Linked DNA regions of Homo sapiens: regions 1, 2 and 4 are each linked to region 3. Evidence: fine-mapped expression QTL. A gene starts in region 3. Each other region holds a variant in brackets. All regions are shown on one strand. Distances are from middle to middle.

Evidence for each region. PIP is the estimated chance that this variant, and not a neighbour inherited with it, causes the effect. A credible set is the group of variants that fine-mapping cannot tell apart.
Region 1: its variant is the best candidate, but not a certain one, in a credible set for the expression of ZDHHC21 in ovary (GTEx, PIP 0.57).
Region 2: its variant is the best candidate, but not a certain one, in a credible set for the expression of ZDHHC21 in esophagus muscle (GTEx, PIP 0.84).
Region 4: its variant is the best candidate, but not a certain one, in a credible set for the expression of ZDHHC21 in whole blood (INTERVAL, PIP 0.88).

Annotation. Positions count from the first base shown.
Region 1 is chr9:14,181,057-14,189,252 of GRCh38, forward strand. The region is part of intron 2 of NFIB (nuclear factor I B); the gene reads right to left. Among named protein-coding and RNA genes, the nearest start is that of NFIB, 130 kb to the right of the region's middle. The variant A/T (reference allele first, on the strand shown) is at 4,258.
Region 2 is chr9:14,624,004-14,632,199 of GRCh38, forward strand. The region is part of intron 8 of ZDHHC21 (zDHHC palmitoyltransferase 21); the gene reads right to left. Among named protein-coding and RNA genes, the nearest start is that of ZDHHC21, 65 kb to the right of the region's middle. The variant G/C (reference allele first, on the strand shown) is at 4,384.
Region 3 is chr9:14,688,937-14,697,132 of GRCh38, forward strand. ZDHHC21 (zDHHC palmitoyltransferase 21) reads right to left here and starts at 4,496. Exons shown (of 10, transcript NM_178566.6): 1 at 4,293-4,496; 2 at 1,401-1,449. RefSeq lists silencers at 4,138-4,277, 4,358-4,427 and an enhancer at 4,501-5,001.
Region 4 is chr9:14,602,088-14,610,283 of GRCh38, forward strand. It overlaps a transcript of ZDHHC21 not described here. Among named protein-coding and RNA genes, the nearest start is that of ZDHHC21, 87 kb to the right of the region's middle. The variant A/AT (reference allele first, on the strand shown) is at 3,117.

The sequences.
Region 1 (8,196 bases), 510 kb before region 3:
ATTCTGTCCTTCCAGGTAAGTGATTAACATACTGAAATTGCTGCTTCTACTATTAAATGCAAGAACATCCTGTTAGTTTCTTCTCATATAAAACCTGGTTATTTATTTCTGCCCTTTGCCTCATGCCTGTTAGCTTAGATTTAATGCTGAAATCAGAATTTTACCCCTTCATCCCATTTCCTTAATTGTCTTTTTGGTTTTATTCTAGAACAGATTTCATGAGATCTTGGCAGGCATATTTAGTGATTCCCACATTTTCCTCCAATTGTTTCCTGATTTTTCAAAATGAAAGTAAAGAAACTAGAAATGACCATTCTTCATCTGGCTCGAGTCTCCTGAAGACAGTCAGAGAGCTGAGAACTCTCTGAAAATCTCTCTCATCTCCCATGAAGTCCTCTTATTACTTTTTCTGAAATCAAGGCAAGATTCAGTGACTTATAAATTAGGAGATCAATCTTCTTCGTTCTACATTCCTTTAAAAAACTGGTACAATATGGGCCACTTTCCAGGCCTGGAGTATGATAGCTACATAAAAATGATAAATCATAACTTTTTGCTATAGCATCAGCTATTTTTACCTTGAGTTCCTCTGACAAATGTCTCTCAGCATTGATATTACATTCCAGTTTAATTTCTCAAGCGATTCTAACATTTTTTAGGAATTCCTACTTATGTATAATACACCCACTGACCAGAGCCTCCCTATGTTTTACTTTCCCTCCAAAGCTATCTCACTCTTATGAAGGTCTAGACATGCACCCCTCAAGGTGGCTAATGCCAAGCTTGTGATGACACCTGAGATAGTTAAAGTTGTCAATTGTTGCAGCAGTCGCCTTATTTCAGGAGTTGTAGACTCTGCATGAGCCTTAGCATGTTTAGTTACAGCAACTTCAAAATGGTGCCGCAAAACTCTTTTCCATCATCTGTTGCTAAAATTTGGGTCCAGCAGAGAAAAGAATGAAAAGTCTCTTCCATTCGTAAGAAACTATCCAGCTAGAACAATGGCATCCCCTGTTACCACAACATCCCACTTGGGAAACTCTATTCTTTTCTGCTATAAATTACTTTTTCTTCTCATTTCCAACAACTGCAGACCAACTTCTTCGATTGAAAAAATATACTTACTAAAAAAACCACAAGCATTTGAGGGAAAGCTGAAGTAGACCCTAAATTTGAGGCACACATTGGCTTTTTGTAACAATTCCACTTTCTAAAATGATCTGGTGTTTACTGGCACACAATGACAGACTCCTTCATATGCCAAAGCCCATACCTTCTCATGAAATAAAGCAGTGTATACTGTGTCTCAGAAACATAGGAGAGGGCCCTCTCAGTGAGCAAATGATAGAGCATTTACTTTTCAGACTGTAAATTCTAACACTATAATCTACTCTTAACTCTTATGTCACCTTATATCGGTCACTTAATTCCAACTGCTGGAAAAGGAAGTAACCAGGGAGTCGTGGTTGGCAGAGAAACCAAAAATGAACTGTTATTGTGGTTGACTTCAGAGAAGGAATTATTCAGACCACATCTAAACCCCTTCCAATTCACCACCTAGGTCAAATTACTCTATACCCAAAGGTTTTATTTAACCACTTCCATCACTTTGCTCAACACCCCCCACCTCTCTCTCTCTCTCTCTCTCTCTCTGTGTGTGTGTGTGTGTGTGTGTGTGTGTGTGTGTGTGTGTGTGTGTGTGTATTTAATATGTTACAGTGAAGCCTGGCTCTGTCCCTCACTAGTGACATGATCTTGTACAAAATTACTTACTCTTAAGAGTCTTGGTGTCTGGATCTTGAAAACTGCAATAATATTATCTACCTTGTAAAATCATTGCAAGATTCTATCACATTAAGCACCAAAAGCATTGGGTCAGACACAGTCTACATTATCAGTAAATAAAAGATATTAATATTAAGCATAGAGCCACATTTAAAATGATTAATATATTTAATGGTTTAAACATATTAAAATGAAAAAATTAATCATTTTTAATGTGGCTCTATGCTTAATAACAACTAACTTTTAGGAAGAAAGGGAGAAAAGGGACATAACTAAGTTCTGTCCATCCCAACACACGCATCTGAAAATGACTGGTGGGATGACTAAGCATGGAGAAGTGTGTGCCTACCTGAGAAATCCTGTGTAAATGCTTTCACCCCTCATTCCCCAAAAGGGAGGAGTCCACTGCTCTTCAAGGCTCTTAGCAGCTGTCATGCTCAAAAGGCAGTAGATACCAGCCAGTTGATGAAAATTACCTTCCAGAAGGCTGAAGTCTTTGAGGAACAAGGCTGCTAAGAGTTGTGAGCTGCCCAGCATACTGGGTCTGGTGTCTGGGAAAAAAAATTTTTTTTTTTTTTTTGAGACAGAGTCTTGCTCTGTCACCCAGGCTAGAGTGCAGTAGCACTATCACAGCTCACTGAAGCCTCCACCTCCTGGGTTCAAGCCATTCTTGTGCTTCAGCCTCCCGAGTAGCTAGGACTACAGGCGCACACCACCACACCCAGCTAGTTTTTGTATTTTTTGGTAGAGACGGGGTTTCACCATGTTGGTCAGGCTGGTCTTGAACTCCTGGCCTGAAGCGATCCGCCTACCTCGGCCTCCCAAAGTGCTGGGATTACAGGTGTGAGCCACCACACCCAGTTTAGTGTCTGGAAAGATTTTGATGCAGTAGAGAAAAAGAGAGGAGTTTTTGGAGGCAGCCAACCAAAACCAGTCCTCCCTCATTCTCTTCCACCTCTCATTTTATCTTCCTCGATCTCAATCTCTATTTTCCCCATTCTTTAAGTGTGGGTTTCATGTTCCCCATTCTTTAAGTGTGGGTTAAACATATGTTTATTCTTCTAAAAAAAAAGTAATGAAGTTATTTCTAAATTACTATATTTTAAACTCAATCAGTTCCTTCTTCTCCAGGTTAAAGATTCTCCAGGAACAAGAAAAGGTTCACATTCATGCACGACCCTTACCAACTTTTCAATCCTTTCGTCCACTCCTTTTTTAAAAGCGGTCAATCTCTCGTGGCTCTTCTAATATCTAAGCTTACCTAAGGAGTGAGCAGTTTTTCCTATGACCCAATTTTATGGAAGATCCTAGGACACATAAGTGATCAAACGGCTTGTCCAAAGTTGCATAGCAACTATTAAAACTTATGTTCTCTATATGGACAGCCTATTCAGACACAATACTTCTTGAATCGTTATGATGCAATCCTAAAATAATGCGAAGCTAAATGATTTTTCAGTAGTTTAAATGTTTCTGGGAAACTTACCTTCCCCTAACCTCCCTCACCCTTCCCACCATTCACCAATACATTCAAAATCTTTTTCAGAATCTTTTTTTAAACCTTTAGCTATTTTCTATATCTAAGTTGGAAGCAATTATTAGTATCACTGAACTCTATATACTAATTGACGTTTTAAAGAGAGGCCAATTCTATAAATCAAATTTGTCTCCATTAAGCAAAGGAAATTCTAATGTTTTATGGACAATCTGGTGGAAGCTCTGTAAGATGTGTGTTAAATATATATGACAATAAATAAGTAATAGCCTGTAAAGTATTTCTTACTGAGCACTAACTTTCTGGAGTAGATACACTGCAACTATCTGAGGTAGATAAATCATCAAAACTGTCAAATTTTTTTTGTAGGTCATTAATGTAAACATCATTTAAATGTAAATCAATTAAGATTTATGCTCACGCCTGTAAATCCCAGCACTTTTGGAGGCTGAGGCAGGCAGATTACTTGAGGCCAGGAGTTTGAGACCAGCCTGGCCAACGTGGTGAAACCCCGTCTCTACCAAAAAATACAAAAAAGTAGCCAGGTGCGGTGGCACACACCTGTAATCCCAGCTACTTGAGAGGCTGAGACATGAGAATCACTTGGACCTGGGAGGTGGAGGTTGCAGTGAGCCAAGATCGGCTCATGTATTCCAAACACCTGGTAATGTTTGGAACACAGTAGGTGCTCTGTAATGCTTATTAAATTTATATTTAATTTACAATAATGACCTTTAAATATTGTTTTAAAAAAAGTATACTCTATGCCATGTAGAAGCTCAGAGGCTGCCTGAAGAGACAGAAATATACAAATAAAAAAATACATAAATCAAGAGGGGACAGATGATTCTTCCTAGGAAAGGTGGGCAAGGGCATATCATAAAAGATATCAAAAGAAGGTGACCTTAGGAACAATGCCGTGAAAAAACGACCTGATTTCCCACCTTTCTAAGACATATTTCACTCTTTTACCAAGA[A/T]GATCTTTATAAGACCCAAAACTGATTAAGCTAAACATCTGCTAAAACCTTTACATATATTCTGAAAATAGTATGCCATTCATGGCACCTTGATCTGGTCCCCATCAGCACCTGGGTCATACTTTAGCCTTTGGACTCCTTGTGTGTCTCCTGCATTTGATGTCTCCAAGTCTGTGCATAATGTTCCCCCTTTTTTCTCCCTGAAGTCCCCCAGGGTGAGGTCATCCCCTTTACATCCTCAACAATATGACACGAAGTCTATTATTGCCCTATTTAGCCTTATAGCCCTAATCTTTGGGATAGGGCCTGGCACATTTGGTTAAGTCAAATGAACAGAAAACCATCAGTCTATAAACTATAAAAGTGCACAAGAAAGAAAGACAAAGCATACCGCTCTGTGTAAAATCATACAGTAGAAGTCAAACAGATAAATTTCTTGTGGCAAGCCAGGGAAACAGACACACAATTCCCAGGGCTAAGTCTCTCAGTCTAATGTAAGGCTCAATCCTACTTCCCAACTTCCTGAAGAAATATTTGGAAACAAGATAGGGTGGATAAGACATACTATTTTGAGTTAGAAATTATTTTTTGTCCATCTCCTATAAAGAGAAGAAATGTTTGTTGAAGGTCCATGTCCCTACTTTGCAAGCACTGAGGCAAGAAAGTTTTAATGACCTTTATAGATAAACTTTCTACTCCTAGATGAAACTTCTTTTAGGAACTCTTTTTATTCTCTGACACCATGGCTTGAGGATCAACAGAAAAAGACAACTGGAAAAGCATAATTTTAATTTATAATGAGTTTGGTGCAAAGAAGGAGCTGTACAAGGTGAGTTTTCAGGTCCCCTGTGGCTCTAAAATTCTATGATTCCATAACAATATAGCTTTTATATCAAGGGATATCAGAGGAGTAAATGAAACCCACAATGTAACCTGTTAACCTACAGATAGCCTCTTGCTAGAACTAAACTTAGTCATCCTGTGATAAAGGGCCCTTTTGTCATAGTTCTTTGCCTTAAGCAGGTGAAGAAATAGCCCATTGTCAATGAAAGAATACCATGAGATTTTTTTTAAGGCTCAGAACAGTCTCTTTCTTTCTCTCTAAAACATTATTAATTGATAATATAATAAAACAGTATATTTTTACAATTAAATATATAGCATGCCAGAAACAAGACGTAACAGGTAAGAAACAAAAGCTTGACGGAAGGAATACAAATGCATGTATTTTATAGTAGGGAAATAAAAAGGTAAAACAAAAACATCTATATTATTAAGGGTAATGGAGAGCAAACTATTCTCCTTGGGCCAAACCTTCTTCTCTCTTCCCCTCTCTCTGCCCAAAGTTTTCTACCTCACTCTTTGCAGTTTACTGTCTCCCATGACTGATTCCTTGGGATTTACAGAACACTAGCTTTCCATAATCAAGTTTCCTATTACATAATTTGGCTTTTTTTTTTCCAGCACAGTTAAAACACCAGGCAGCTTCAGTTTTAATGGAAGGTTGCTTCATTGCTTTGGGTGACACAAAATTATAGTTCTACATTATTTTATTTTCTCTCTATTAGATGTGTATTAAAATAAGACAACGAAAGAACATGGGAAAACTGAGTGTTTTCCTTGCCTCTCATAAGCATGTAAATGTTTGGGAAATGGTTTCTCTCTCTCTCTCCCTCCTTCATTCTTCGCTCCTGTGTGTGTGTGTGTGTGTGTATGTGTGTGTGTGTGTGTGTGTGTGTGTGTGTGTGTGTGTGTGTGTGCCTGTGTCTCCCTTTATCTCCTGTCTCTCTCTGCTTCTGTCTCTCTGTCTCTTTTCAATAGGGCATTAAATTATTTGGAGTCCACTTCACTGCAAAACTTAACTTAACAAGCTGTTCATGAAAAGTTTTAACTTTATCACTTTGTTAATGGAATCCCTGATCTTGTTTGTTGTTTGTTTGTTTGTTTTTTTAGTGAATCCGTACTCCTCCTAAACCCAGTTCTGAGCAATAAGAGAAATTAGACCTCTCTGAATATTTTGGCAGAACCAATATAATATTTGGGAGATGCAGTTTCCTGCATATTTTAAACTATTTACTATTTCAAGTATGAAGACCTATATCTTCAGATCCCTCTTTCTGTTGTTTAACATTGATTTTAAAATATACGTTTGATTTAGCAAAACGCATAGTTTAAAAAGATGTTGCTACACTTAAGATCTTCATGATAAAGTAATTTCATTAACCAAAGAAAACTACAGAACAAGAGAGTAGATATACGATATATCCTGTTTCATTCCTGAACATCCCAGTTGTTTTATCATTAAGCTTTCTTTTAAAGAGCCACTTTTTTGCTTAACAAGGAGATTAGGTACAAAGAGTCATATCCCAAGGATTAAAATAAGGATTTGTTAGCGCTCAAGACTGAAATTTGTCCACAGGGAATTAACTGAAAAAATAGGCCACTGAAATTTAAGGTGGAAAAAAAATCATATTATCAAAAATCATATATCAAAAAAAATCAAAGCAAATCATTCTACCACAGGGGACTACTAATGAATCCCCTGCAAATATGAAACCCTGCACAAAAAGTGTTAAACCTGCCAACATCTCTGACCAGAGGGCTGTGGTACTTCATTAAGTAGTACCAACCCACCCCCCACAACAATGGGAAGCTAGGATAATCATATCTGACCTTTCTGCCCTAACCTAAGATTAAGTTCAATGACTTCCTACTGATCTAGGGATTGAGTGAACCAAAGGTCATAATCAGGATCACCTACAGTTCTTGCTTTTGAAGGCTTTAACCTACAGAATGCAAAAACACCGTACTGGTCATTGTCAAGATTGCTGACTTTCTACAGTGTGTTTTCAATTAAGTAAATAAAATGTGGTAATTAAATCAAGATTGCATAATATGTTTTTGATTTGTAATCTTATTTAAATTAATTAACTGACTCAATCCTTGCTTAGTTTTTAAACTGGTCGAGTTAGGGAAAGAGTCCCTGGGAGCAAATCCAGTTTTCTATCTTTAAAAACAAGGCAAAGCAATCTGGCATACTTAAAAATATACATTAAATGCACCAGCATAATATAAATACAGAGGCAAGGGTGCTAATGTAGAGGAGGGAAGAGTTTTATGGCACGATTTTGACTAAAAGAAATAGCTCTCGCACTAGAGAGAAATAAACTAAAACATTATTTATTCAAAACATTTCTTTTCGAATTTTATGAAGATTGCATATTTGTTGGAAGCAAAACATTTCCAGCTGTATTTTAAGTTTCTGAAGAGGGTTGTAAGATTTATAATCTTTCATAAATGCTGCCCATATCTTATAATATTAGATGAACACGCCACTGCGTACTTTGAGGAACAATTTGCCAACGCAGTTTGCCACATGAAAATAATAAAGTCCTTTCCAAAACCCAGCCAGATCCAGTAGGAAAAGATGAGATGAATGTTCTTTCTTTTCCATCTGGGAGACATTTTGGATTTCAGCTATACTATGTAATATACATTTTTTCCCCTTGGAAACCAAGAAACCTGCATTTTACAACAAGGTATGTAGTGCAAAGAAAATGCTGGTGAAATAAGAATCTGAAAATGAAAACCAGAATGTCATCAGACTCAAGAACATAATCATGAAGGCAAATCGAAAAATCAATGCAGAATTTCAACATAAAACAAATGCAATGTTTATGATCCTATTAGTCTTAAATTTTTCTCTTAAAAGGAAAGCATAGAAAAATAAGTGCTGTTTTACCTCCAAAGTCCTGAACAGCATTTATGTTACTACCTAGCACCATGACTTACATATCTGGTTTATCCTGGAGTCTTCACGCATTATTCTAAATCCCACACATACAACACTCCTGTGTACACATGGCCCCTCTGTGCTATGTCACTTCATGTATTTTCCCAACACTTAATATATCTAGGTTAAAATCAGACATAAGACTT
Region 2 (8,196 bases), 65 kb before region 3:
ACAGCACTGGGTACACTGTCAGCCCTCCATATTTGTGGGTTCTGTAGCTGTGATTCAATCAACCATGGATCGAAAATACTTTAAGAAAAACTATTTAAAAAAATAAATAATAATATGAATTAAAATAATATAGTTTAACAACTATTTACATAGTATTTACGTTGTATCGGGTATTATAAATAATCTAGAAGATGAATTATAGTACAAGGGAAGATGTCCATAAGTTATATTCAAATACTACACCATTTTACATAAGGAACAGGAGCCTCAATGGATTCCGATATCCCTGTGGGGTCCAGAAATCAATCCCCCATGGAGAGTGAGGGACAACTGTATATTCAAAGGAATAAAATCAGTATGTCAGAGTCCCATGTTTATTGCAGCACTCTTCATAATAGCCAAGATATGGAATCAACCTGTGTCTAACAGCAGATGAATAAAGTAAATATGGTATATATACACAATGGAATACTAATCGGCCAAAAAAAGAATGAAGTACGATCATTTGTGATCACATGCATAAATGAAATAAGCCAGTTAAAGAAAGACAAATACTGACTGTTCTCACTCATATGCAGAATCTTAAAAAAGGTGATCTCACAGAAGTATGAATAGAACAGTAGTTAGCAGAGACTGGGGAGGGTAGAAAGAAGTGAAGGATGGGGAAGAGGATGGTCGATGGGTACAAAGTTACAATTAGAAAGGAGTAATAAATTGTGGTGTTCTATTGCACAGCAGTGTGATTACAGTCAACAAAGTACTGTACATCTCAGAATAGCCTGAAGAGAGGATTTCGGATGTTCTCACCACAAATAAATGAAAAACGTTTGAGGTGATGGATAAGTTAATTACTGATTTGATCATTACATTATGTATACAAATATTGAAGCATCACATTGTACCCCATAACTATGTACAATTATTATATATCAATCAAAAATTTAAAAATTAAAAACACTACTCAGGCAAGTTTTTCACAATTAGAGAAAAACTTTGCCTGCTTTATCTATTACTAATTTATATTAATTCTAAGAAAGACTTTCATTTCACTTCTTAGCACCTCTGATTAGTATATGAACAGTAGCTCATTTAACTTTAAATTTTTCCATAGCACTTAGCAGCACATACTGTACAAAATGGTCAACTTAATATAAATTTGCAGCACTAAACTAATTGGACATGAACAGAAATAGCATGATTCCTTATTTTTAGTTTTGTTTTCAATCAAAAGAGGGAAATGTCCTGTTAATCTTAGCTCTGTCTTCCTTCTACTTTCCTCATTTGAAATGAATGGTTCTTTAAGCACCCATTTCCAACAAAAGACCAGCTATGTCTTTTATCAGGGATCTGAAGTTCACATAAACATCGAATCAATCATAGAACAAAAGTGAGAAGGCAACAGATCTTATATTTATAGACACTGAAAATCTCTTTCCAAAATAATCCTCACACTTCTCTTAATCTTAAATGCCACTTTCTGACTGTATAATCTAAAGAAAATTGCTAAAACTCTATACCTCCATTTCCAAATAATAACGCTTACCTCATAGGTTTTTGTGGGGATTAAATGAGTTAATTATGTCAAAACCCCTTATAACTCCTCAATAAATGGCAGTCTTAAGATTTTAGTGATACTGCCTACTACCTACTTTTTGAGAGGGCTTGGAAAGAAATACCTCAATTACCTCAAAATGTAACTTTTCAACATTATGTTTAAACAAACAAACAAGTGGTTTTATAATGAAAAATAAAATAATAGGGACTACAAGAGACTACACATATAAAATCCTATGCCCTCTAAGAGCTTATAATCCAGTTGAAAAAACAAGTCCTAAATATGTAAACCATGATTCATTCATTCATTTATCCATCTATCAAAAATTTACCAAGTATCTATTATGACACAGTCCTTAGCATCATGGAACTTACAATCTAGTAAAAGTAGTCAAGTATACAGGAAATAATTATATAGTAACATAGAGAGGAAGCCAGCAAGGATGATTATATACAATAATGTTTTGTAGAAATAAGTCTCGCACTAATCAGAATATTTGGAACAGCTGAAAAACTGTTTATAATCAAAACTCAAATTTAACTACTCTTACACTTTTAACACCAAAATTATACTTTGATAAGATTTTTGGTTATTAGTAGAAATAAGATGGGCATTTAACATGCCCCTTTGGCTGAGATTCAGGGAATAATAATATATCAATAAAATGTACATAAATTATTGTGCCAAAATACCATAAGCAAACCATAAATATAAGATTTACTGCTTTCTGCAGTCCTATGTTTTAATGTCAGATTAAATATTTGTGTGGATTCAGATCATGAAATAATAAAATGAATATCTAGGAAAAATTGTTAGTAAAAGGAAAACCCATAAATGTTTAGTTTCCTTACGAACACTTTTTAAGCATCTATTTAATCACTCAAGCAATCAGTAGTGATTTAAGGACATATAAATAAATTATAGAAAAAGATTTCTTTTTAATTAGTTTTATCAAAAATACTTACAAGCAGTTTATTACACTGAGCAAACAGAAATTATGCAATATAAATATGCTTTTACATAGGAACATGCATATGCTAAAGAGTAGCCCAATTCCACACACCATAATTATCAAAATAATTTTGATAATTTTTTTAAAAGAGTATTTCATGTAAATATGAAATATAACTTGGTATTTAAGCAAATGCCCTTGGCAAGGGGGAACCTAGTTTTTTATAAACTTATCATATACAAAATTCTAAAAAATATTATACCCAATTTTACTATATGACATTAAAAGCATATTTAAAAAGAAGGGACACTTTAAATTTTAATTAACTTTCTAGGTTTTAAAAAAGCTATAAAATCTTTCATATAATATTACAATTGGGAATACTACATTAGAAATACATTTATTTTATTTTTATCAAGCAAAAATTCAGAGGAAGACAAAAATGCCTTACAGAGCTCCCTTTATAGAAGTATATGTGAGCTGGGGTCAGCATAATTAGCAATGATGTTCATGTCTGCAATGCTGACCTGGAGCTGAGTACATCAAACATAATTGTTATAAAGAGTGTACTGAATGCTATTAATTCAAAATAATTTGGCAGAATACTAGGCAAAATTTAACTATAGGAATTAATCATTTGAGGACTACACTTCTGTGTATAGATTAAAAGGCAAGTAAATCGACTGATTCGTAAAATGCTGTTTACTAGACAGTCTCCTTTAAACTGATTTCACACTTGGAACACAAGATACTTTTCAGTGAGTAAGGTAGCCAAGTTAAAACTGTCACCCCTGCATTTATGATTTCTCCTGTATTTATTTAAGTAAACATTAACTTGCTGAGTTAAATATGAGCCAGTATTTAGGGGGGAAAACATTTTCTTCTTAATTTGAAAAGCTTTGATTTAAGCTATCTTCAGCAATTCAAATAGAATCCAACAATAGCACCTGTGAAACCAAATGCAAAAATCACTATTTTTTTGTTTGAGAATTTAGTCTTTTACAAAATTGCAACTAAATACATCTGTCTCACCCTACCCCCAACCTCACCACAACTGAGAAAATCTCCAGAGACATCATCAAAAGCTTACACTATTATATAAACTCCACAGAGCCCAGAAAACAAAAATGCTTGTATATAAAAATTAGATAAACTGTCAGAGCAGTGTCATGGTACACAATAGCTCACTGTCAGAACCTCACCAGAATGCGCTGTACCAGCTGTTACAGCACTTCTTGATTAACTCTCTCCAAGCCCAGTGACTGAGAACATGACAAATACAATCACCCAGCACTATTAGTATTGGTGCTCATCAGAATGGACATTATTGTTGGCTATGTGTGAACTACTGCTCAATAATTCAGACAACATCAATTACATTAAATAACATCACTATCCATTTGATTCAGAAACAGCAAAAAAAAACCAAAAAACAGGCTAAACAGTCTGAAGTCTAAAAAATAATTTGACTAACCTGTTTCCCTTAATAAAAAATGCCTCGAAGTAGACTGATTTGAAAACATTTTTATTCCAATATAAATTGTAGTAAAAACGCACAAAAACGTATATTTAAATCCTGTTTAAAATTAAATCGAAAAATAATCACAGGTAATCCTTTTGAATTGGGCTTCAGATTAGTCTATTTAACAGAAACATCTGGTTGTGTTGAAATCTTTTAACCTTGAAAATGAGATTAGAATCCACTATTTTTAAGTTAAAGTAATTTCTAATTATTTTATCTGGGTCACAGATAATCTACTCTTGCTAGGTCTAAAATGACATCAGATTATCACTGCTATGATTATCCTGTTATCTTTCACTATCAACAGGAAGATGAGATAAATGATTTATTTATTCCAAGTAAAAATGAATAATG[G/C]TAAAAAATTACTGAAAAGTGATATGCTGCTTCCCTGAAACCTCAAGCTAAATCCCAAAGAGACAACACTTATTTTGCTTGTTTGATGTCTAGTAGGTCTATATTCAAGCTATGCAATAAAATAGTTTACGTAATGAAATGATATCCGTATCAGTAGTTTCCCAAAATGCCTCTAGGATCTTTAGGGTGCAAGAGTAGGGAAAAAGTAAGACTGCAATGGAAGGATTAAATTTACTGTGATTCTTTCTCCCACTTCTTTCTTATGCAACCTGACAAATTCGTCACTTAACACTGTAAAGAGAGATCCATGGATTCGAATTATGACAAAAACATGTGCAGATGTATAATTTCTTGTAATCTTAATTTTATCACAAAACAGCAAACTTATTTTATAAAGTAAGCATCATCTATATTTTAACTTAATTAAAATATTAAATAGTATTTAAGTGCTAATTTAATTCATTCGATTTAAAATTAAACACCGAATGCATTAGACTTTTAAATAATCAAGCCTCAAAGAATCTTAAATCAATGTGAGGAAGAGTATATTCTGGAAACCCTTTTTAATTTCTTTTTTAAACCCCAAAAGGGTAACGCTTGAGGTTCACTATGAAATCCCAGCTAAAGAGATTTAAAAATTCATTGTAATTCTAAAAAGTACTCGTATTCAAGAGAAAGTAAAGTGACTAAAGGTTAGGATAACAAATAGAATATATCCTCTCTCTTGCTTTCTCTTTCTTAACAATTCTTTTTTGATTGTTTTACAGAGGTGTAATTGCTATAGATACCAGCAGTGTCTGGTACAGTGCTCTGAGAGGTTACTACACATATGCAGAAAGAGATGAAACTTTTGGAGGGAGCATTATTCAACAAATGTGGTTTCCACTCGGTTTTAGAAATATCACCTCATAACCAAATCTCTCTACCTTAATAAAATGTAACGTTCAATACTACAGAAAAAAACCCTTGCAATTTGAGAATTAACATGTTGATAGAAGGGAAGAGAGTCAGAATCAAACCTGATACACAAAAACCATAAATAACTTACAGAAATACCTCGAAGATATTGCAGGTTTGGTTCTAAACAATGAAGCGAGTATTGCAATAAAGCCGGTAGCAAAAATTTTTCGGTTTCTCACTGCATATAAATGTTATGTTTATGCTATACTCTATGAAGTGTACAACAGCATTATGTCTAAAACACAATGTACATACCTACCTTAAATTAAAAATTATTTATTGATAAAAAATGCTAATGATCATTTGAACCTTCAGGGAGATGTAATATTTTTGCTGGTAGGGGGTCTTACCTCCAAGTTGACAGCTTCTGATTGGCCAGGGTGGTGGCTGCTGAAGGCTGGGGTGGCTGTCAAAATTAAAACAATAAACCGGTGGCTCACACCTGTAATCCCAGCATTTTGGAAGGCCGAGGCAGGTGGATATTGAGGTCAAGCGATCGATACCATCCTGGCCAACATGGTGAAATCCCATCTCTACTAAAAATACAAAAATTAGCTGGCGTGTTGGTGCACACCTGTAGTCCCAGCTACTTGGGAGGCTGAGGCAGGAGAATCGCTTAAACCCGAGAGACAGAGGTTGCAGTGAGCCGAGATCACGCCACTGCACGCCAGCCTGGCGACAGAGAGAGACTCCATCCCAAAACAAACAAACAAGCAAAAAAACCAATAAAGTCTGCTGCATAGGTTGACTCTTCCTTTCATGAACGATTTCTCTGTAGCATGCGATGCAATTTGATAGCACTTTACCCACAGTAGGACTTCGTTAAAAAATGTGGAGTCAATCCTCTCAAACACTGCCACTGCTTTACCAACTAAGTCCATATACTCTTCTAAATCCTTTGTTGTCATTTCAATAACGTCCACAGTATCTTCATTAAGGGTAAACTCCATCTCAAAACACCACTTTTTGGGCTCATCCATAAGAAGCAAATTCCCATTCATTCAACACTGATCATGAGATTGTAGCAATTCGGTCACATCTTCCACTTCTTATTTCTCTTGTTATTTCTAGCACATCTTTAGTTACCACCTCCACTGAAGTCTTGAACCCTTCAAAGTTAACCATGAAGTTTAGAATCAACTTCTTCCAAACTCCCGTTCATATTGTTATTTTGGTCCCCTCCCATAAATCGCAAATGTTCTTAATGGCATCTAAAATGGTAAATCTTTTCCAGAAGGTTTTCAATGTACTTTCTCCAGATCCATCAGAGGAATCACTGTCTACAGCAGCTATAGCCCATGAAATGTATTTCTTAAATGGTAAGACTTAAAAGTTGAAATTACTACTCCTTGATCCATGGCATGCATAAGGGGTGTAGCAGGCATGAAAACAACATTAACCTCCTTGTATATCTTCATCAGAGCTCTTGAGTGACTTGATGCATTGTCAATGAGCAGTAATATTACGAAAGGAACTTTTTTTCCTGAGCAGTAGTTCTCAATAGTGGGCTTAAAATATTCAGCAAGCCATGCTGTAAACAGATGTGGCTGTCACTTAGGCTTTGTTTTTCCATTTCTAGGGCAAAGGCAGAGTAGATTTAGCATAATTCTTAAGAGCCTAGGATTTTTGGAATGGCAAATGAGCACTGGCTTCAACTTACAGTCACCAGCTGCATTTAACCGTAACAAGAGAGTCAGTCTGTCCTGTACCTTGAAGCTTTGAAGCCAGGTATCGACTTCTCCTCTGTAGCCACAGAAGTCCTACATGGCATCTTCTTCCAATAGAAGGCTGTTTTGTGTACACTGAACATCTGTTGTTTTGTGTGGCCACCTTGATTAATCATCTTAGATCTTTTGGATAATTTGTTGCAACTTCTACATCAGCACTTGCTGCTTCACCTTGCATTTTTTATGTTATGGAAATGCCTTCTTTCCTTAAGCCTTAAGAACAAACTTATGCTAGCTTCCAACTTTTCTTCTCCAGCTTCCTCACCTCTTACAGCCTTCATAAAATTGAAGAGTTGGGGCCTTGCTCTGGATTAGGCTTGGTTTAATGGAATGTTGTGGCTTGTGTGATCTTCTATCCAGACCACCAAAAATTTCTCCATATCAACAATAAAGCTGCTTCACTTTCTTATCATTTGTACGTTCTGTGAAGTAGCATTTTAAATTTCCTTCAAAAACTTTTCCTTTGCATTCATAACTTGGCAATTTGGCACAAGAGGTCTAGTTTTCGGCCTGTCTCAGCTTTTAACATGCCTTTCTCATTAGGTTTCATCATTTGTAGTTTTTGATTTAAAGTGAGAGACATGCAACTCTTCTTTTCACTTAAATACTTAGAGGCCACCATAGGATTATTATTTGGCCTCATTTCAACATTATTGTATCTTAGGGAATAGCAAGGCCCAAAGAAGAGAGATAGAGGAATGGCCAGTGAATGCAGCAGTCAGAACACACACAACATTTACCAATTAAGTTTGCCATTTATACGGGCGCAGTTTGTGGTGCCCCAAAATAATTACAATAGTAACATCAAAGATCACCAATCATAGATCATAGTAACAGATATAATAATCATGAACATGTTTGAAATATTACAAGAATTACCAAACTGTGGCACAGAAACAACAGGTAAGCACACACTGTTGGGAATATTGTACCGAAAGACTTACTCAATGCATCATTGCCACAAACCTTCAACTAGTTAAAACACACACAAACACACACACACACACACACACACACTATCTACAAAGCACAATATAACAAGTATGCCTGTATAGCATATATACTGTGGATAAGAAATTAAGTGTTTATCAGAATATATTCAGTAAAAATGTATCAAAACTACTAT
Region 3 (8,196 bases):
GGGAGGCTGAAGTGGGAGGATCGCTTAAGCCAGGGAGATGGAGACCAAGGCTGCAGTGAGCTGTGACTGCACTGCACTCCAGCCTGGTCAACAGAGTGAGATCCTGTCTCAAACAAAAAACAAAACAAACACAAGAACAACAAAAAATGCCCCGTTATCTACTTTTTTAAAGTCTGTGAACTAGTCAAAAAAACTTCAAATATTACAGCCCTTCGGCTAGTATCATACTAGCTGAAGTTGTATTTCTACACGTTGGTTAGGGGGATCTTTAAGAAGAAAACCGAAAATAGAGATTTGATCTAAAATAGAATGAATGAACTGAAGCCCCTAAACTAAATCACATTCAAGTAAAAGCAGGACTGGTGAGCAAAGGAATAAAGTGTGAAAGAAAATCAGTACTTGATCTCAGAAGCTAATAAAGAATGTATAATGCAAGCAGGGATTCTGAATCAATTGCTGAGTTTTCCAGGAAGACTTTGTAAAAACGTGGGTGGACAAAGTGTCAAAGCATAAAATACTTGCACTATCAATGGTTTCAAGAATCCACTCTGTAGACTAAGTCTTTAAATTACATTCTGGGCAAAATTGAGCATAAGCTGTTGCTCTTCTCATAAATTTGTTTTTGTGTGCACCAGTCTCATGAGTGAAAAATAAATGTACATGACTGTATTAGTAGTACTACACTGCAGTATTAATACTGCTAACACTATCCTAGTAGTATTACTACTAGTAGTATTAGTACTGCTAATACAGGCATTTACCTTTATTTTTCCCTGCTTGCATTAACTTGCTTTAACTTTAGAGAAAGTAGATAACTGGGCCACTGTTTTTTGGGTATGTTTGTCTGAGACAGGGTCTCACTATGTTGTCCAGGCTGGAGTGCTGCAATCACAGCCCACTGCAGCCTCAGTCTCCATTCTCCCTGGCTCAAGCTCACTTCATTAGAATCTTCTAACAAAAAGTAAAAATAGCTTGGGAGGTGTGGGGTGATACGAATTAAAGACCACCAAATATTGTTTCAGTCAGTACAAAAGGTCTCTGTGGGAATTTTCATTAGGGAGATAGGAGTGGGAAAAGGGACTGAAAAGGCAAGATTAAATGTAGGATAGGGACAGGGATTTAAAAAGGTAACTTTTGTTCCAAAATCAGCACAAGGAAAAAACCTTCAGATACAGTAAAAGCCAGAAATGAAGAGGCCCAGGCTTTTCCTGGGTATGAATCAAGTATGTTCTTCCAAGAAGGAAGGGAAGCCTGCTACTTACCTTCTAGTACCCACCACACCAAGAGAGATTGGTGGGGGGTTGGGGGTAGAAGACTAAATTAGATTTCCTTCACACCAGGCTTTACCAAAGCAGCCATGATTTAAGAACACTAACACCATAAGAAAAATCTCTCCTCACCTGCTTGCTGAAGCTGAAAATCCTGCAGTAAGTGAAAAAGTTCTTCATTCTGTAATTACAGATAAAAAGCTTAAAATCAGAAGCTTGGTTGACATCACACTTGAGCATTTTAGGTTAGATTTAAAATAAAATTCACCAGTGAATGGTAAAATATCAATTTTACCCAACCTGCCCTTTTGTAGAAGGGGCAACACATCGGTTAAGAGAGTCTCTGAAATGGGGAAGAAGGTTAATCTACCCTGAGAGAAATAGCACAGAGGAAAAAGCAGCTTGAAAGGCAGAAGGCAAACTTCAAAAATGTCACAATTTTGCCTAGGTTAGGTCTAAAGAGCAAAACAAACACATAAAGTACCATCATACTAAGGTATTTTTGTTCAGGGACCTATCAATGAGCACAGTGATGATTCACATGTCTATGAAAATGTGCTTTTTAAACTAGTCTGACTTGACTTATCAAGAATTCTTAACAAATCACTTTCAACAATAAAAACTGTTTTACAATTTCACCTGTATTTTTACCTTTAATAAGAGTTATTTAAGCACTGATTATTCTACTAGATGCTAAATTGCCTATTATATTTAATGCATGTGAAAAGTTGAATCTGAGCCCTAATGTTTTACTAAAACAACATAAAAGGTTACATTCCTTAATATAAAAGTAAAACTGAATTTAGGGAACAAACTCTTGGCAATAAAAACAGCCTTTCCTCTGCCTTCCCTCTTTTGCCTGGTAGTATTGATACTGCCACTGTGTCACCTCCTATGCTAAAAAAGTTTTCACTGAGTCACATTCAATTACAATTCCAGAAAAACAGCTCCATGTTGAGACATTACTCAACTTCTCAAGCAGTTTCTTTACTAAACCACTATATAATAAGACTAGCAGGAGGACAAACAATAAACTGCTCCTTTATTGACCTTCTCACTCCTCTCCTCTCAACCCAAAGAGGTTTTCGGGAAAATGGCTTATGGATGGCAGCAGTTTGCACTTGTTACTATTCACTATAACAGGTCCCTGGATTGTAACTGCAGAGACCATTTGAGTTACGGTCTTTTTCAAGCTATATGTGGGTCACATTTTATAAAACCATTATTTTATTCATGCATTTTTCCACAGGTTCTGAATCGGTCATTACGAATTAAAGAAATGAGGCAGTAGGCAAATAAGAAGTACATGTTATGATTCATTGATTCTTGTCTCAGAACTTCCTGTTAAGCTGATTATATGTCTGCATTTTTAAATGCTTAGATTTCTCTTATTAAACAAAGTACCTCGTAGGCAAAAGTGACACGGTCCTCATCATTTTCTTTAAATGACGCTCTATTTCATTTATTCCAACTACAGCTTCTCAAGTATGTTAACAGAAATCTCAGTAGTGTCAAAGGATCTAATAGAATTGTTTCCATCGAAAATGATGAATTCTGGAAGAGTACTACACCAAAACAATTATGGAATTATACATTTTAACTTATATTTTCATATTTTACTAATACTTCGTATATGTTTTTAATGTACCTTCAAACCACGTTAAAGGGTCTTATTTAAAAACATTTTCCAAGTAAGCATGGAAAAGCTAAAATAAGCCTTAAATAATTTAGTCTGGCTCTCTGATGGTATAGAGAAAATAACATGGGTCATTGCCCTACCTGTAAACCCACAGCTGGATAGTGACAGAAATGGGACTAGAATCTAGTTTTTCTTTCCACGACACCAAATCTCATTTGGCTCTTTCTTTCCAGTGGATTTCTCACCTCAATTCTTCAAATATCTTTTTGCTTTTAAGAGATGGCACAAACTAAGGAAAAACAGAGCATCTCTCCGAATTTTACCTTTAAAATAAGTAAAATCTAAAGAGTTGGAAGAATTTAATATTACACCAAAAGCCTTTTAATCCAGGAATGGCGCATACTAAGCAGTCATCAAATGGTGACTGTTATTAATATTATTCTTACCACAAGGAAAGCAGTGAATTTTTAAAAGTGCATATATTAGCATAGTAGGCTGAGGACCTATTTAACACATCTTTTTAAATTGCACTTAATTATCCTTAGTCGCCTTTGGACTGTAACTTTACAATATAATTTATGACCCGCCCACAATGACCTTGATTTTTTTTTCTCTTCTACTTTTAGAGACTGCTATATTGCAATATTTTAAAGTAATAATTGGTCATGTCCTCTCAGCCCTGGTGATACAGACATCCACCCTGACTCTCAAGGGATCTTAAAATGTGACCCACATATAGCTTGAAAAAGACCGTAACTTAAATGGACTCTGCAGTTACAATCCAGCGACCTGTTACAGTGAACAGTAACAAGTGCAAACTGCTGCCATCCATAAGCCATTTTCCGAAAACCTCTTTGGATCAAGAGGAGAGGAGTGAGAAGGTCAATAAAGGAGCAAACTGTTTGTCCTCTCTGCAGCTTCACACCAGAAGTCTGGAATGAATGAAAAGCTCTGGAATAGCACAGAGAAACCCGGGATCCCAGTGCAGGTCTCCAGACGGGGGTGCGGGGAGAGAAACTGTAGTTTACAAGCGAGAAACTCAGGATACAGATTTAAAATAAATAAATAAATAACTAGCCAACATCGTCTCGACTAGAGCAGGAACCCCCCACCCCCAGTTGAGGGAGGAGCACTTAGCAAGGGGCTGTAGCTCTAGCAGAAGACGCTCTGAAAAAGGCCAGGCCTGGGGCGGGGAGGCACCGAGAAACCCCCGGGTTCCAAACAGAGCAGGTGCAGGGGGCGTGCAGGAACAGGTGAGGGCGTCCCGGCGCGGAGGAGCGGCGGGCGGGCCCGGCAGAGCGGAGCGGGGGCCGGGGATGGGGGTGGGGGTGCGGATGGGGATGGGGGTGGGGGCGGCCGCTTCGCCCCCGCGCCTGCACACTCACCGTCGCCGCTGGCTCGCCTCTCGCTGCCGCCGCTCTCCCGACCGCCAGCAGCTCTTTCCCCTCCTCCTGCCGCGCCACCTCCGCCTCCTCCGGCGCCGCCGCCCAGGCCGGGCCGCTCTCCCCTTCCGCTTCCGGGAGCCTGAGGGCCTGGACCGGCCGAGTGGGTGTCCGCATGCCCGCGCGCCCGCGTGGGGAGGGACGACTGCCGCCGTCGCCGTCTCGCTTAGCTCCCGGGAGCCGCGATGGGAGCCGCTGAGGGCCGAAACTCCTGCAATCGCGCCGCAGCCCCAGAGCCGCGGACCCAGGCAGACCGCACTCTCCAGAGCGCTTGCACCTGGCGCGCCTGGGCGCCTCTGCCCCTCCCCAGCCCTACTTGAGCCGTCCTTCTCATTGTCCCCATATCCTCACTGCTCACCTCTCCCGAGAGACAGGATGGGGGCCTTAGCTTAAAAGATTGCATGTATCCTTTCTTCGGGGGATGTGGCCAGCAGGCCTCTCTCCCCGCAGGTGTTCTGGGATGTCCCATGGTACCTTGCTTCAAAGCGCGGTCTGCAGCATCAGCATCCTCTGGGAACTCACAATCTTTGAAATGCACAATTTCAGGCCTGCTGAATCAGTACATGCACTTCAGCAAGATCACCAGGTGACTCCTGGGGTGCACCGTAAAGATGGAAAAGCATTGCACTGTAGTGCATGGTCTCGTCCACTTCAGACCCTCTATTGGGTTGCCTCAGACATCCCAGGATATTTCCTGTTCCTGTCCTCAACCTAAATCCACACCCAAACAATCTTTTCTTATATTTTGGGAGACCTCCAAAAGTTTCCTGCTTTCCCATCCCTGCAAAAGCCGACAACTTTTGGACTCAGCGATGCAAGTAATCCACCTCTCAGTCTAACTTGGTATCTTCACCAAACACCAGAGATCTACTAACTTTCCCACCTCACTCCGGCTGAACAGTATTTGGGGAAGGTTAAACCGTTTGCAGTAATGTGGAGCTAGATCTTTCTGCCCACGTGCCACAGGAGGAGACAGTGTGTTGGTGGAAGAAATATTACCTGTTGTATAAAATCTGTATTCCTTATAAGATGTGCTTAAAAGCCCTCCACAGACACATCCCTACCTACCTCTCCAGTCTTAGCTCCAACTAATTTGGTTCATTTCCCCATTCTAGAATGCCCTGCTCTCTGATGATCTTAACCCTATCCAGATTTGAGAGTGGAAATCTTGCCAAACCAGAGTTCTCTCACCACTGCCCTTATATAGTGCACATTGTTGCCTGTTTGGGGCCTCATATTACCTTGTATTGCTAAGGATTTTTAAACATGTTGTGTCCTGGTTTCTGAACTAATTATAAACACCTTGTGACCTTAAAAACTTTGGTCAGTGGTTATCAAAGTGGGATCCCTAGACCAGCAGCATCGGTATCACCTGTCAACTTGTGAGAAATCCATATTCTTTTGCCCCATCCCAGATCTACTGTAGTAGAAACTGTTTAGGTGTAGCCCAGCAATCCGTGATGTAACAAGCCTTTTAGGTGATCCTAATACACACTCAAGTTTTAGAATTACTGACCTAGATTACTAGATATTCCCAAAAGAACCCAGTGGTAGGAATTGATTTACCCATAAGCAGATTTTATTGCCTTTCAGGTTAACAAATACACTCCCCGATATATGCATAGCGAGGTTGAAAGACTAGTCACGATTGCTTTTGATAGAATTACCTTTATTTTTCATAAATCATTTGATGTAGTAGGATTTTTGTAACTTTCTCTGTTTGAAAAGAAGGAGATATTTCATATAAACAATCACTTTGAAGGAAGAGGAAATGTGGAATCCTCCCACCGGAATCCAGCTACCTGATTGCGTATTCAATGTGAATCCCTTCTACCCAAATCCAGCTACCTGATTGCATATTAAATGTGGACTCCTCCCTACCCGAATCCAGCTACCAGAATTGCATATTAAATGTAAAATCCCCCCCCCACCCAAATCCAGCTACCCAATTGCATATTAAAAGTAGAATCCCCTCCACCTGAATCCAGCTACATGAATTGCATATTATTTTGCTTTCTCTTCAGATACCCCTGTGAGAGGGAATAATTTGTGACAAGTGATCTCAAAACTGCCAAAATAAGAATTAGTTGACAGGTCCATGATTGCACATGACAATTGGAAGTGCATGGATTTTTCAGTCCCTTTTTAAAATAAGTTAGCCTGTCTTTTATCAGCCAAATCAATTCCACAGAGAATTTTTAAGCAAGGGAATAGGAGAGAAGAGGCAGGAGAAACATCCTTAAAAACATGAACCTTTTTAGCATGGGCATTTCATGAGTATAATCAAAGGCCTGCCTATCCCTTACACTGAAGGTCAAGTCATCTGGTTCTATCATTCATGCTAATCATTGGTTATATTGTATTGCAACCCATACATTCAGGCACCTGGGTAACAATAAGGGGGTGAGGGAGATGTGGCATCAGGTAATCTTTTGAAAAGATTTTCTATTTACTGGGTATATTATGGAAAGACGATATAGATCGTACCATATTTTTTCCCTCCAGAATTCTAATCTACTTCATGGGGCCTGGGACAAACTGAAATGTGATTATTAATCAAACTAATATTTATCTGGAAGTAGAAAAAGTAGACAAGGACAAGTAGCATTGCTGCCACTGCCAACCAAGCTTCTAACAAAGGCACACTCAGGGCATTTATGAGGGTAAACACAGCCAACTCCTGTGCTTCTGTGCCGTGACTAGGGAGGATCTGGATTTTAGTGCAATTTCCAAAAATCAGTGCAGTCCAGAGTTTAATCAGTACTGGCTAATAGCCCTTGGCAGCTTTGGATGGATGGCATTCTCCACCTGCCCAGCTGGGTACCATGCCTTAAGCACCCATATTTGATGCACATTCATGATTTCTTGGTTGCCTATAGTTGTCTCTCCCATCTGTTTGAGTGGCAGAGTGCCTGTGCCATAACAATCTAATATTCTAAAAGTTGTTCTTAACCTCTTCTCTTTTGGGTTACACATCTCTTTGAGTATCTGATGAAAGTTGTGGACCCCAGCAAAGTACACATATACACAAATACACACACACACACACACACACACACATATATACACACACACATACAGGAACATATATATTTATATATATGAAATTTATATATATGAAGTTTCACAAGTTGCCCCACCTTCCTATGCCTCCAAAGGATCACAGCGAAGCCAGGAACTTCAGGCTAAGAAATATCCCTAGAATGTAGAGAGTAGGTAAAATAAACATTTTTCCCCAAATATCAAGGAAAACTGCAAAACAAACAAACAAAAACGACTGTGTGCTTAGGAGAAAAAAACAATAGCAGTGCTAAACAGAGTTACAAGGAAAGTTTTATGGAAGTGCTAATGAAGAAACTAGTAATTTCCATGGGATAGTTCAAGGGTGGCTTCTTGGAGAATGGTTCCTGTATCAGGCAAGTGAGAATAGGATTTTGATTGGGGGAAAGGAGGGAAAGAAATTTCAGGACAGAGGAAAGTGTAAGCAAAAACATAGAGAAATGAAAGTGCAAGAATCCCTCTGGTGTGGCTCAAAGGTAGGATACATGGAAAGAGAGAGGGCTGGAAATGTGGAACAGATTCCAAGCATGGTGAGCCTCAGAAACAATGCTATTCCCAATGAAGAGTCCTTAGGCTTTTGGCAAAAGGTGATGACCTGCTCCAAGCTGGAAAAGACTATTAGTGAGGGCAGTGGTATTATCAAAAGGCAGAGTAGTGGGGCATCTGGAAAGGTTCTAAGTATACTACATTGGAACCTGTTAGGCCACATTGCTTTACCTCAACTTTGGATTGTTTGATGGTGGCTCTAGAAGTTTCTATTCAATTAAATCATGATGAACCTGAGATT
Region 4 (8,196 bases), 87 kb before region 3:
TATATCTATGTAACAAACCTGCATGTTCTACACATGCATCCCAGAACTTAAAGTATAATAATAATAATAAAAAGAACCTAACAGAAATATCGGAACTGAAGAATTCAATGAATGAAATAAAAAAATTCAATAGAGAGCTTCAACAATAGACTAGATCAAGCAGAAGAAAGAATTTCTCAACTTGAAGACAGGTCATTTGAAATAATTCAGTCAAATTTAAAAAATGAAGAAAGCCTACAATGACACAAGGGACCTCATAAAGTGACAAAGTATTCGCATCTTGGGAGTTCCATGAGATGAGATGGCCAAAGGCACAGAAAACTTATTTAATGAAATAATAGCTAAAAACTTCCCAAGTCTTGCCAGAGATACAGGCATCTAGATAGACAAAGTGCAGTGATTCCCAAGTATATTAAACCTGAACAGGTCTTTTCCAATGCACACACCATATAGTCAAACTGTCAAATGCCAAAGCCAAAGGAAATAAATCTAAAAGCAGCAAGAGAAGAGCATCAAGTCACATATAAGGAAATCCCCATCAGACAAACAGATTTGTCAGTAGAAAATTTATAGGTCAGAAAAAATGGGATGACATTTTTAAATTGCTGAAACGAAAAGAAACATACTCACAACATGAATGAATCTCAAAAATATGCTGAGCAAAAGCCAGTGAAAAACAAAGGACAAAAGCCAGGCACAGTGAATTGCACTTATAATCCCAGCCACTCGGGAGGCTGAGGCAGAAGGCCTGCTTGAGCCCAGGTGTTCGAGGTTACAGTGAAGTTATGATCATGCCACTGCATTCCAGCAGCCTGGAAAACAGAGAGAGAGACTTCATCTCAAAAAAAAAAAAAAAAAAAAAAAAAAAGGGAGAATTTCATTCATGCGAAATTCTGTAAAAGGCAAATCTAACTTACAGTCACAGAAAACAGGTCCGCGTTTCCTGGAGGGGTGGGAGTTGAGGGGGAGCAGTAAAGTGGCCTGAGGAAACTTTTTGGGTGATTGAATATTCCATATTTTGAATATGTTGATAGCTACATGGATATACATATTTCTAAAAACTCACTGAAATGTACTTAAAATGAATACATTTTGTTGTGTTTAAACTATCCCTCAATAAAGTGAACTTTAAAAATGGAAGACAGAAAATAATGTATTAAACTCCAAATTATATTTTTAAAAGTATGATAGGAAATAAAAACATAAATTCTTATGTCAAATAGGAGGAGTTACCTCCTATTTGAGGTACCATTTCTTACATGAATATTACAATTAGAAATATATAGGTAAATCCTCCTGAAATTTTTAAGATAACCACTGGAAGAATTAAATGCATGCTATACTTCAAGGACACAAATGACACTGCAAATCAGATGTGAAAAAATGTGCTAAACAAAAAATTGTTGTGGTATTTTTCCCCAGTGTGGTTTTTACTTCTATGAAGACCCAGTAACAAGCACAACCGTAACATGAAAGATTTGGATTCAACCACTTTTACATAAACGCAACCAAAGCTCGTTAATCTACCCTCATGTGATATATAAATTACTGAGCTAATCTTGATTTGCTAGATAAATAAAATATGAAAATAAGATCTCAACAGGCAATACTTATTTTTATAAGGACTTTACAAATTTATCTACCTGTGAAATATTTAGAAAAAGGGAATCGCTGCTCTTTATTAAGAAACAAATACAATCAAGTGGATCCTGAACTTTAGAGGGGTCGAACTCTAAGTATTCAGTAATGTGGTTTATCTCTGGCTACCTCATAAGAGCATAATTTTTTATTCATATTTATAGTCGTAGATGTTGACTCATCCCTTGATTTGCCTTAAGAAAATATATCCTTCATGAATTATTGAGTTATTAGAGTCATGTTTTTATTCACTTTTTCTCTCGATATTTACAAAGACTTTTTCCAGAAAATTACATTAGATTCCTGGCAAATCGATTGGACTGACAAATGATGCAGGAAGCAGCAAAAATATGTATCAATAACAAATAGGAAAAACTCATTACATAGGGTTAGTGAGGATGTGGGGGAAGATGAAACAATATATATGTTGGTTGGAGTGTAAATTGGTTTGACTAAAGAGCAATTTGGGAAAGCTTTTACAGTTGAAGATGCACATACCTTACCATTCCACTATTTCACTTCTCTTTGAACAAGTTAATAACAAAGGAAATAATCCACTTAGTGAATAATATATAAACTACAGTTTATTCAAATAATTGTTCTGTGGGATTTATAATGAATGGCCCAAATCTACATTAATAAAGATGTTTTGTTTAAAAAATGTGATGCTGATTAAAATTTACATAAATGTAAAATTTGAAAATAGTATCATTTATGGATGCTACATACATCATAAAAGCACAAAAACATTCATGAAAATAATTCACACTGACTTTAGGATGGCGGCTACCTCTAGGGAGGAAAACTGCAGGTTGAGGACTTAGATGTATCTGTAACATTGCATGTTTTTAGAAAACAAAGTGAGAAAACTGAAAAAAGCAAAACATTAGCATGTAATTAATCTTGGTATTTTTAATTACACAAATTTAGTAAACTCTCCAGTTATTATTTTTCATACTTCACATTACTTTTTATTGTGGCAAAAAGCACATGAGATCAATCCTCTTAGTAAATTTTTAAATATACAGTACGGTACTGTTAAATTTTAAGTATAGTGCAGTACTATAAGCATAATGTTATACAACAGAGCTCTAGAACTTTTTAAACTCGCGTGACAGAAACTCTATACCTTTTGAACAGCAGTTCCCCAATTCCCCCTCCCCACAGCAGCCACCATTCTACTGTTTCTATAAGTTTGACTACATTAGATACTTCATATTGGTGAAATCATGCAGTATTTGTCCTTCTGTGGCTGGCTTATTTCACTTAGCAAAATGTTGTCAAGGTTCAAGCTGCAGCATCTGACAGTATTTCCTTCCTTTTCTATGGCTGAATAACATTCCATTGTACGTATATACTAAATTTTCTAAATTCATTCAACCATCAATGGGCATTTAGGTTGTTTCCATCTCTTGGCTATTATGAATACTGCATTAATGAAATGGGGAGTGCAAATATCTCTTCCAGATCCTGGTTTC[A/AT]TTTTTTTTTTTTTTAATATCCAGAAGTGGGAATCCTGAATCATATAGCATTTCTAATTCTTCTGAGGAACTTCCATACTGTTTTTCAAAACAGCTGCACCATTTTACACCCCTAGTAACAGTACATAAGGGTTCCAATTTCCCCACATCCTCACCAACACTATTTTTTTCAAATGGCCATTCTAACAGTTGTGAGATAATACCTCGTTGTAATTTTGCATCTCTCTATTAGTGATGTTGAGCATCCCTTCACGTACCTGTTGGTCATTTGTGTGTCTTCTTTGGAGAAATATCTATTAAAGTCCTTTGCCCATTATTTAATCAGTCTTTATATGGATTTTTTTCTTCTATTAAGTTGTAGGAGCTCGTTTTGTATTTTGATTAACCTCTTAGCAAATATGTGGTTTGAAAATACCTTCTCCCATTCGATAGACTGCCATTTGATTCTATTAAGTCTCCTTAGCTATGCAGAAGCTTTTAAAGTTGATGCAGTCCCACTTGTCTATATTTGCTTTTGTTGCTTGTGCTTTTGGTGTTATCTCCAAGAAGTCAACAATGTTATGAAGATTTTCCCCTATGTTTTCTTTTAGGAGTTTTATACTGTCAGATCTTATGTGTTGTTAATATTTTGTCCATCTGAAATAATTTAGTTTCTCACTATACAATATTACAGAAACAAGTTTCCAAAAATGTACAAAACATTGAAGTTTGTAAAAATAAAGCTACACTGGGGTTTATGAAAATAAACTTCAAATGGATTCAAGGGCATAATAGTTAAAAAAACAAAAATATCAAAGTTTTCTTGAAAAATGAAGGAAAATACATAATCTTGATTTAGGAAAGACCTTTCTAAACAAGGTAATAAAACCCAGAAGTCATAATAAAAAGTACTAAATTTCAAGGTAGTTTAATTCTTCCATACAACATGATGATTGGGCAAATTTAATTTCCAAAGATGTCCTCAACAATATCTCCCATCCTATATACTTTTCCTGTGAAGTGTGACTCTGACACTCTTCCCATGAAATGGAATTATGTTCTCTCCCGCTGACTCTGGATAAGCTTGGGACTACAGGTTTGTGACTTCTGAAGCTAGGTGACAAAAAGTGACATAGTTTCTTTCTGGTTGTCTTGGGCCACTGTCTTCTAGAACCCAGCCATCATGCTGTAAGTAAGCCCAAAGTTATATGTAGAGGTCCATGTAGGTGTTCTGGATGATAACCCAAGCTGAGTTCTCAGCTGACAGCCAGCATCAACCATCAGGTATGCGAGTAAACGAGGCTTCTGTTGATTGCAGTTGCCAGCCATAGAATCTTCCAGGATCTTTCGGTCCTCCAGCTAAGACCTCAGACACCATGGAAGACAGAAAAGCTGCTGTGCCCTTTCTGAATGCCTGACCCACAGAAACTGTGACCATAAAAAAATGGTTGGTTTTTTTATGGCACTAAGTTTGGGATTGTTATATAGCAAAAGCAACTGGAACAATCACCATAAAGAAAAACAAGTGACTGGGCTAAATTTTAGAAACCTATTAAATAGATTAAAAAATAATACCCAGGAAATATATTAATAAAAAGTTACTAACATTTGACAAGCAAAGGTAACCTAGTCAAAAACCATAAACAAAGAATACACAAGAGAAAAAAAACCAGACGTTCACCTCTATTACTTTGCTACAAATTTTAAAGATTAATAGTATTCATGTGAGAATGTGTGTAAAGAATTTTGGAAGACATTTTGGTACTTCCTATCAAAATTAAAAATAAGTACATCCTCTGACTTGTCAATTTCACTTCTAGACTTTACCTACAGAAATACTAACAAATGGGCACAAATATTTCTGCACAAGACTGTCCTCCATAGCACTGTTACTAATAGCAAAAAAAAAAAAAAAAAATCTACATGATGCCCACTACAGAGGAATGGTTAAATAATAGTTTATTGATATGAACTGTACAGAAGAGGGTGGGCATGGTGGCTCATGCCTATCATCAAGCAGTTTGTGAGGCCAAGGCGGGCAGACTGCTTGAGCTCAGGAGTTGCAGACCAGCCTGGGCCACATGGCAAAATCCCGACTCTACAAAAAATATAAAAATTAGCTGGGTGTGGGAGGATGGCTTGAGCCAGGAGGTGGAGGCTGCAGTGAGCTGAGATTGTGCCACTGCACTCCAGCCTAGGTGACAGAGGCAGACCCTGTATCCAAAAAAAAAGTTATTATATGTTAATAGGGATAATCATATATCATTATATGATAGGAATATCATATATAACACATATGATAATGTGAAGGAAGGGGAGTGCAATGATGCACACCAAATTATGGCCAGTAGCTACTTTTGGGGAGGAGGGTGGGAGTGAAGATTTTGGTAACGGCAATTTTTTCCATTTTGTTCTAGACGGTGATAAGTGCTATGGGCTGGGGGCGGGGGGGAAGTAAGGACAAGAGATCAGGGCTGTTGTGGAAGGGTTATGTAAATTTTAAAAACTGATCAATTTTTCATGTTTACATAAAGTATAAAAACATCTATCAGTATGCTACATACCATGTTTAAAACAGCGTTCACCTCTGAGGAGGAAAAAGAAGACTCTACAGGGCTTTGAATACCAAAAAGTGAGGATCACTGAAGACCCTCTTAGAAGGTTCCTACCACAGCGATTACCCAAATTATTGGAGACTTTCAAACGTAAAAAATGTACATGAAAAATCAATGACAAAAATTAGAGCACTTCACAGCACAGTATCGTGCACTGACTGGATCAGTATTTTCCACATTGTGGGTACTTTTCCGTGATGAGAATATCTGAAATGCTTTTGAACACTGAAAAACTCGCTAAAAGCCAGACATCAAGTTACAAGTGCAGACCATCCAAAAACCCTTCATACTGGTTACTTCTAGACACCATTAAAATATGAACCTGTTTAACATAATGAGGATATGTGTTCTACAGCTACAAAGCTTACACAAGTTATAAAACAAATTTCATTAACTTGTTGGTCCTGACTTCAGCTAGGATTACGCATCTATAGTTTCAATGTGGAACTATAAAATCTCCATCTCGTACTAGGTACTCAAACATTCAGTTATGGCCAGTAGCTACTTTTGGGGAGGAGGGAACATGTCTAATTTTTTAAAGTTGTAAATTTCAATACTAAGAAAGATAAATATCACCCAAACCATGCTACAATTAAACTTACTACTAAAGACACACTCAAATACGTGTCTACAGTAGTATCTGAGTGCTTGGAATTGTATATTCCAAGTTCCTAATTTCCTCAATAGTCTGGCTTTCTTAAAAAATGCAAAACACACTGCTATTTTTATTGTGTTTGATCTTTAAACAGAGGTGCTTTCTTGTTTGGAGAAGGGGCCTAATTTGAAAATACTAGTCATCCAGAGGACATACAAAGAATGTGCTGTGACTGATACAAATATTTTTTTAAGTTAGCTTAGATGTATTTTTTTTTTTCAAGCTAACACATATCCTCTATCCTTCCTCAGTACTGTTTGCTCAGCTGGATGTCTACAGGGTCCAATTTTCCTTCCAATTGCTCTTGCACGCTAATATAATTGCTGCTCATATGGGTAATTGGTCAGCCTAGAGCAGCATTTGTATGCATTTGTTCATCTACAGTATCTGGCAACTTCTCAAATGATTTTGCACTCTTATAATACAATCACGTATTTTTAGTTTTTGCCTCTTTATAACAAGGCTAAGTAGGTGTGAATCTGTAAAGGATACATATTTTAAGTGTTCAAAAGCTGGAATATACAGATACACATTCCAATTATTTTTAGCAGTGGACGTTTCTTCTCACTTATCAGAGTCAATGAATCTAGTCTCAAATGTATGTTCCTCTGCTCCACCTTCCCCAATTGTTTCCTCCCCAAACAAAGCCAAATTAACTAGATTAAACCACACTATCGCTTAAAAAAGGTGACAAGCCATTTTCACTTAATACTGATGAAACAGCAAAAAACCATTAATTTTACTAAAGCTTGTTCTTGAGCACATTTTAAATATTGTTTGACAAAATGGAAGTACACATAAAGCACTTCAGGTGAATTCCAGAATTTAATTGTATTATTACTAAAGAAAAGCACTTGTGTGACTGTTTGAGTTGCAAGCTGAACTAGCCACTTTCTTTCATGGAACACCATTTTATACTTGAAGGAATGACTGACAAACCAGTTTTTCAGACTTGGGTATTTGGCAAGCATTTTCTCAAAAATAAGTGAAGGTAACCTGTCACTTCAAGGACAACTACTGACAGTATGTGGTTGCCAATAAAAAAATTCAAGCTTTCACATGAAAATTAGAATTCTGAAAAATGTAATCTGTCACCACAAACTTAACCGCTTCCCAGTACTTACTTTTCTGACAAGATCAGTGGTAATATTAATGAATTTAATTTTATTTTGTATGGCTAAAAGCAATACTTACTTTTCTGACAAGACCAGTGGTAATATTAATGAACTTAATTTTGTATGGCTAAAAGAACTTTCCAAAGTGAAAAAGAGACCAGTGGATTTTAAGAACACGAAAAGTTCCTTGGTATTGTTTCTGACTCCACATTGGAACTAACTAAACTTTAAGAAACCATCACTTGAGTTTTAGTGTAGTACCAGAGGAAAATATCCAGTTACCTGAAAAGATCAGAATACTCCTCCTTTTTCCAACTACATTATCTGCACAAGATCAGACTTCTCCAGATACTTCTAACAAAATAACAATTCAATTGGTCTAATGCGAAGCAGTATGAGATCCAACTTTCTTCTATGAAGGCAGACATGAGAGCTTTGCAGAAACATAAAATCATGGGTCTCTAAACAAAAATGTTATTTATGTTAACATGTAATGAGTTTATGTTTAAATGAATTAGCAACTATTTAAATTTTTTCCCATTTTGTTTCAAATTCTCCTAGATCCTAATCGGTTTTATTTTCTATTACAATAAATACTGATAAACATAACTTACATAAGCAAAAATTCTTTGGGGCCTGCAGTAATTTTTATAAATGTAAAGGAGTCCTGAGACCAAAAAGTTTGAGAACTGTTGTAACTTATCATCACTAAGAAA